Homo sapiens: one gene and its partner. The protein of the gene in region 2 interacts with the protein of the main gene of each other region in a pairwise test. Each region holds a gene or a part of one and is shown on either strand. Other genes may lie near its edges.

The links. The genes of interacting proteins can lie anywhere in the genome.
Region 1: the proteins of CYP4F2 (region 2) and ERGIC3 interact in binary tests that used the Homo sapiens proteins (3 or more experiments, as listed by UniProt).

Annotation. Positions count from the first base shown.
Region 1 is NC_000020.11:35,548,578-35,552,077, forward strand, and holds part of ERGIC3 (endoplasmic reticulum-Golgi intermediate compartment protein 3), read left to right. Parts: coding exon 1-97; intron 98-230; coding exon 231-288; intron 289-3,500. UniProt on the Homo sapiens protein: Possible role in transport between endoplasmic reticulum and Golgi. Positively regulates trafficking of the secretory proteins SERPINA1/alpha1-antitrypsin and HP/haptoglobin.
Region 2 is NC_000019.10:15,877,523-15,881,074, reverse strand, and holds the end of CYP4F2 (cytochrome P450 4F2 precursor), read left to right. Parts: intron 1-1,177; coding exon 1,178-1,311; intron 1,312-1,406; coding exon 1,407-1,471; intron 1,472-1,646; coding exon 1,647-1,729; intron 1,730-2,138; coding exon 2,139-2,304; 3' UTR 2,305-3,052; downstream 3,053-3,552. UniProt on the Homo sapiens protein: A cytochrome P450 monooxygenase involved in the metabolism of various endogenous substrates, including fatty acids, eicosanoids and vitamins.

The DNA.
Region 1 (3,500 bases), on a different chromosome or scaffold from region 2:
TACTATTGAGCAGTGCCGGCGAGAGGGCTTCAGCCAGAAGATGCAGGAGCAGAAGAATGAAGGCTGCCAGGTGTATGGCTTCTTGGAAGTCAATAAGGTATCAGGAGGGATCAAGACAAGATAGGGCCAGCTGGGCTGGGCAAGCTCCACTGGGAACCGAGGGCCCAGTCAGGCCCTGAGTAGGCAAAAGGAGGACACAGCCAGTGAATGAGAGAGAATGTTCCTTACAGGTGGCCGGAAACTTCCACTTTGCCCCTGGGAAGAGCTTCCAGCAGTCCCATGTGCACGGTGAGTGATCTGCACTAGCTGGGGAGATTTAGATGCTGGCCACCTTCTTGGTGAGCTTGAGTGGTCCTCTTCTGCCTGCTGCTCATTTGTCTTGGGCAACCATTTGGCCAGAGCAGGCCTTCATCTCAGGGCAGCAGTTTGGCACAGTGGCTAAGAGCACAGGCCGAGGAGCCAGACTGCCTGCATTCAGATACCAGTTTCAGACCTTACTGGCTGTGTGACTTTGAGAAGGTTTCTTAATCTTTTTGACTCCTGTTTTCTACTTTATAAAATGTTGTGAGGGCACTTATCTCACAGGGTGTGTGTGCAGGTTAAAGATGATAGCACGGAGCCTGGCTTGTGGTAGGTACTTGTTGAAATGGTAGCCCCCCGTGTCCGATGATGACCTGTGCATGAGGCTTTGGGAGAAGCAGAGCTAGGTTGGAGCACAGGTTCTGCCACACCTGGGCTATGTCATATTTGGGCCCTATTTAGTTGCTTCTTCTGTAAAATGGGGATGATGATAATAGTACCCACTCACAGGGCTGTTGGGGTGAACAAATGAGATTTATTCTCATTCATTTGTTCATTCATGCATTCACAAAATATTTAGTAATCACCTACTAGTCTAGTTGCTAAGGGTACAGTAGTGAACAATCTGTGCCCTCAGAACATTCTAGTAAAGAAATAGACAATAAGTATATAAAATATAAATAGTCCCCAATTAACAATGGTTCAGCTTGCAATTTTTAACTTCATGATGGGTATTACATGCATTTTTCACTTAACGATATTTTCTTTTTCTTTTTTGAGACAGAGTCTCACTCTGTCGCCCAGGCTGGAGTGCAGTGGCATGATCTTGACTCACTGCAACCTCCACCTCCTGGATTCAAGTGATTCTCCTACCTCAGCCTCTTGAGTAGCTGGGTGTACAGGTGCGTGCCACCACGCCCAGCTAAGTTTTGTATTTTTAGTAGAGATGGGGTTTCATTATGTTGGCCAGGCTGGTCTTGAACTCCTGACCTCAAGTGATCTGCCCGCCTCGGCCTCCCAAAGTGCTAGGATTACAGGCATGAGCCACCGCACCTGGCCGACTTACAATATTTTCAACTTGCAATGGGTTTATTGGGACGTAACCCCAGTGTAGGTCAGGGAGCATCTGTATATGGTATATCAGATGCTGTTAAGTCATATGGACCAAAACAAGGCAGGATAAAGATGGTAATGGGGAGGGGCTAGGGTAGGGCAGTGAGGGTCCTATTTTAAATATGGAGGTCAGGGAAAAACTCTTTGATGAGGTAATATTTTAGCAAAGACCTGAAGACAGTGAGGGAGCCAGCCATGTGGATGTCTGGGGAGGAAGTGTTACAAGCAGAGAGAACAGCAAATGCAAATTCCTAAGGCTAGAATGTGCTTGGCAAGTTCAAGATACAGTAAGAAGGTTAGGGTGGCTGGAGCAGAGGAGCATGCTTAGAAATGAAGTGAGAGAGGCCGGGTGCAGTAGCTCATACCTGTAATCCCAGCACTTTGGGAGGCCGAGGCGGGTGGATCACCTGAGGTCAGGAGTTCAAGACCAGCCTGGCCAACATGGTGAAACCCTGTCTCTACCAAAAATACAAAAATTAGCTGGGTGTGGTGGCACACGCCTGTAATCCCAGCTACTCGGGAGGCTGAGGCACGAGAATCTCTTGAACCTGGGAGGTGGAGGTTGCAGTGAGCTGAAATTGCGCCATTGTACTCCAGCCTGGGTAACAGAGTGAGACTCCATTTCAAAAAATAATAATAAATAAAGAGAGGTCACAGGGCCATATCATGCAGGGCTTGCAGGGGCATTGTAGGGACTCGGGCCGTTACTCTGCATGAGATGAGAAGCCATTGTAGGGCCCTGAAGAAGGTGAGGCATGATCTGACTTAAAAGCTCTCCAGCTGCTCTGTGGACAAGACTGGGCAGGGGAAAGGACAGAATCAGAGAGGCCCATTAGGAGGCAGTTGCAGTGATCAATCCAGGCAAAAGATGGTGGGGCACGGCCCAGAGTGGCAGTGGAAGTGGTGGGAAGTGACTGGCTTCTGGATGTATTTTGAAGGTAGAGCTGAGAAGAGTTCCTGATGGGCATGAGGGATAAAGGAAAAAGGAGTCAAGGATGCCTCCAAAGTTTTGTACCTGAGTAGTAAGAAGGATGGAGTTGCCTGTAATCCTAGCACTTTGGGAGGCCAAGGCAGGTGGATTGCCTGAGCTGAGGAGTTTGAGACCAGCCTGGGCAACATGATGAAACCTTGTCTCTACTAAAAAATGCAAAAAATCAGCCGGGCGTAGCGGCGTGCGCCTGTAGTCCCAGCTACTCGGGAGGCTGAGGTAGGAGAATTGCTTGAACCCAGGAGGCGGAGGTTGCAGGGAGCCGAGATTGTGCCATTTCACTCCAGCCTGAGCGACAGAGTGAGATTCCATCTCCATTAAAAAAAAAAAAAAGGATAGAGTTGCCATTTAGCAAGATGAGGGAGACTCAGGGCAGGTTTAGATGTTCGGAAATGGGATCGTACAGCTGGTATTCGGCTTTTGACGTGTTCAGACCAATAGCATCTGGGTGTCCTTCTAGACACCCAAGGTGTCAAGTAAGTTTTCCATTCAAGCCTGGAGTTCAGGGAGAGGACTTGCCTGGAGATGCAGATGTTGGCATCATCAGCATGTGTATAGAGCTGTGGGACTGGATGAAATCACCCTGGAGGTGAGGGCAGATGGAGAAGAAGGGAAGCTCAAAGGGCTGGGTGCCAGGCCTCCCACATTAGAGGCCAAGGGTGTCAGGGGGAATTGGTAGGGGAGACTGGAGGAGGAGTGTAAGCTGGGAATGTGGCATCCTGCCAGCCACGGACGGGTGTTTCAAATACCACATCAGATGCTTCTGGATGTCAAGCGGGAATTGACCATGGCATGTACATGCAACAGTCACTTATAGCCTTGACTGAGTCATTTAAGGGTGTGACAGGACCACCCTAGAGTGGGTTCGGGAGGGAATGGGGGAGGAGTTGGAGCCAGTATTGACAGCTCTATAGTGGAAATTGCCTAGGGGAGGAGAGAGCATGAGCTGAAGCTAGAGGGAAATGTGGAGTCGAGGGAGGCTTTTCTAAGGAGGGTGATGTAGCAGAATGTTAATATGCTGTTGGAAATTATCGACTAAAGAGCATAAGTGATGCTCCAGAGACGAGACAGTGACCGGAGTGAAGTCCTGGAGAAGGAG
Region 2 (3,552 bases):
CAATGTGTATGTGGCTTGTTTCCAACCTTTTGCTAAAAGTGGACATGAGGCAGTCAGCATGTGTGCACAGTGACCATTCCTTGCATGTATAAGCATCTCTGCAGGACAAATTCCCTGAAGTGCAATTGCTGAATCAAAGAACATTTGCACTGTACAATTTTAATTATCATTGCAAATCCTTTCCTATTAGCTGAGTTTGATGGCACAAGTTTTCCCATAACTTTACCAATACTACTAATGTATTATTAAATTTTAAAATCTATGCCAATCTTCATATTTCTTCTTTTGATGGACATTGTTTTAAATAAGAGTGAGGTTGAACATCTCTTTCACGTGTTGATGTTTGTTTCTTTTTATGGAAGTGGTTCCTTTATTTTTTTGCTCTTTTTCTTTGGATTCTTTAAAAATATTTACTTTTAAGAATGTGTATTAAAATTGATTTTTTTTTTTTGAGATGCAGTCTCTATCGCCCAGGTTGGAGTGCAGTGGTGTGATCTCAGCTCACTGCAACCTCCACCTCCCAGGTTCAAGCCATTCTCTTGCCTCAGCCTCCCGAGTAGCTGGGACTACAGGTGCCCTCCACCATACCCCGCTAAGTTTTTGTATTTTTAGTAGAGACGGGGTTTCACTGTGTTAGCTAGGATGGTCTCGATCTCCTCATGTTGTGATCCACCTGCCTTAGCCTCCCAAAGTGCTGGGATTACAGGCATGAGCCACCACGCCCAGCCAAAATTGATTTTTTTTTTTCTGTCTTGGGTTGCAAAATATTGCCTTTCAACTTTTGGAGGGTACTTTTCATTACTATCCTTTATCTGCAAAAACTACCATCTTGAGCATATTCAACTTCTGTGAAGTTAAATTGATCCACTTTTTTCTTTTACAACTGTAAAATCCATCAGTTTCCCAGGATTTTGGTTTGAGCAGGGGCTGTCTTTATCAAATGTGAAGTTTTCACTTATTCTCATGTCTTTTTCTGAGCTCTCCCTCATGTTCCATGGGTCTGTTTTCTCATTTTTGCCACAGTGCCACACTATTTTTATTCTTGCGACTTTGTAACAATTCTTGTTAAAAGTTTATTTTATTGCGGGGAGAAAAGGTCTCACTTGCAAACAGAGAGAAGCTGGAGAATTGTGTCTTTGCTCCCTTGATAAGGATTGGGGCTGGGGTGTTTCCTTAGGGACGACCTGGCCCATTTGCCCTTCCTGACCATGTGCATGAAGGAGAGCCTGCGGCTGCATCCCCCAGTCCCGGTCATCTCCCGCCATGTCACCCAGGACATTGTGCTCCCAGACGGCCGGGTCATCCCCAAAGGTGCTCACAGCCTCACGGGGAGGAGTCTCCTGGGTAGGAAGAGGGGCCCCTCAGTGAAGGAGGCCTTCTCCTGACTGCTCCCTTCTCTCCCACAGGCATTATCTGCCTCATCAGTGTTTTCGGAACCCATCACAACCCAGCTGTGTGGCCGGACCCTGAGGTGCGGGGCCCCTCTCTCTGTTTTTGTCCATTCCAAGGCTCCTAGAGGAGGGGGCAGGGTTTTGATCAGGAGTATCCAACATCACCTCCCTCAAAGACACACACAACTGTCTGTCTCTCCAAGGCTGGCGGACTGGGAGACCCCACCCAACAACCCTTCTTGGTCTCACCTCCAGGTCTACGACCCCTTTCGCTTTGACCCAGAGAACATCAAGGAGAGGTCACCTCTGGCTTTTATTCCCTTCTCGGCAGGGCCCAGGTAAGGGCGGCCTGTGTCTGAGGTGGGAACGGGTTGATGGGTGCAGGGGTCTGGGCATGACAGTGGGGAAAAGGGGGACATTGTAGATGGTCCAAGTTCCAGCTCTCTTTCCCTCACCTCCTCTGGAGTTTATAGGAAAAGGTCCATAGAGTACGGTTGGGTTGGTCCTAGAAGGGTCTGTGGTGTGCTCAGAGCCCCCTCCTACCCCACCTTGGTCTAGGCTGGGGGTTGGAGCTCGGCTAGGCTTGCAGGATATGCAAGCCCGCATGGGGATCCAGGCACGGATACCCCCTTCTCTATTCCTCAAACTGCTCTAGGTGGGGTTGGGTGTCCCAGGCCAGGTTACCGGCTTGATGGGGCCAGGATGGGGCTCCTGGGTGCAGTCAGAGTTCCCACCTCCCTCCCCTAGGAACTGCATCGGGCAGACGTTCGCGATGGCGGAGATGAAGGTGGTCCTGGCGCTCACGCTGCTGCGCTTCCGCGTCCTGCCTGACCACACCGAGCCCCGCAGGAAGCCGGAGCTGGTCCTGCGCGCAGAGGGCGGACTTTGGCTGCGGGTGGAGCCCCTGAGCTGAGTTCTGCAGAGACCCACTCTGACCCCACTAAAATGACCCCTGATTCATCAAAAGTGAAGCCTAGAATTACCCTAAGACCCTGTTCCACAGTCCTGTATTCCATCCTAGATATCTACTCAAAATAATTGAGACAAGTGTTCAAACAGAAAGACGCTTGTGCGTGAATGTTCATGGCGGCCCTATTCACAGTAGCCAAACGATGAAAACAACCCCAAGCTATATATTACCAGATGAAAGGATAAACAAAATGTGGTCCATCCATACAATGGAGTATTACACAGCCATAAAAAGGAATGAAGCAGTGATCCCTACTACACTGTGGATGAACCTTGAATGCATGATACTGAATGAAAGACGTCAGATGCAAAAGGTCACATAGTGTACTGTCCTTTTATACGAAATTTCCAGAACAGGCCAATCTGAAGAGATGCATAGCGGATTGGTGGCTTTCAGCAGCTGTGGGGAGGTGGGACTGAGGAGCGACTGCTAATCAGTATGGGGTTTCCTCCCGGGATGGTGAAAATGTTCCGGACCTAGATAGTGACGAAGGTAGCACGACACTGTGAGTGCACTAAATGCTATTGAATTGGACACTTTGAAATGGTGAATTTCGTGGTATGTGAATTCTACCTCAATCAAAAAAATTTGCTATTTTATCTCACATACATTTTTTTTCTGTCCAGGTTGTTCATATAATAATATGCTGTGAGCATCTTTCCATGACATTAAATCATCTTAGGAAACATTATTTTGTGGTCCTCAAAATGTGTGTGTTAAGTGTTCAAATCAGTCTTAATTTAAAAAAAGACATCATATTAGAAAATAAAAGTGTTTTGTCTCACTTTGTAAGAATTAGCTTCATATACATTGACTATTAGTAACAAATTGAGTTATTCTTCATCAAGTAACTTTTGGGGTAGAGATCTCATTTTCACAGCAATAGATGCACAAATATTCATGTAAGATACAGGTGTGGTTAGACACCTTTCATAGAACAGTTATGATCTGGAAATTCCACAGACACTGAATATTTTGGTCGTATTAACAGAAGTAGATCACTGAGAAGGGAGAAGGTGACTTTTCAGCTCCCCCAGGTAAATGCTGATTTCATCCTCACATCGATCTTACAGATTGTAGATGAACTCACTTGTTCAAGGTCACTCAGTGAAGGGTGGAGTCAGGGGTGAATCTGAGCAGTTGGCATCAGAGGTCATGCCTTATCGTATCAAGGACATGATTTTCAAAGCG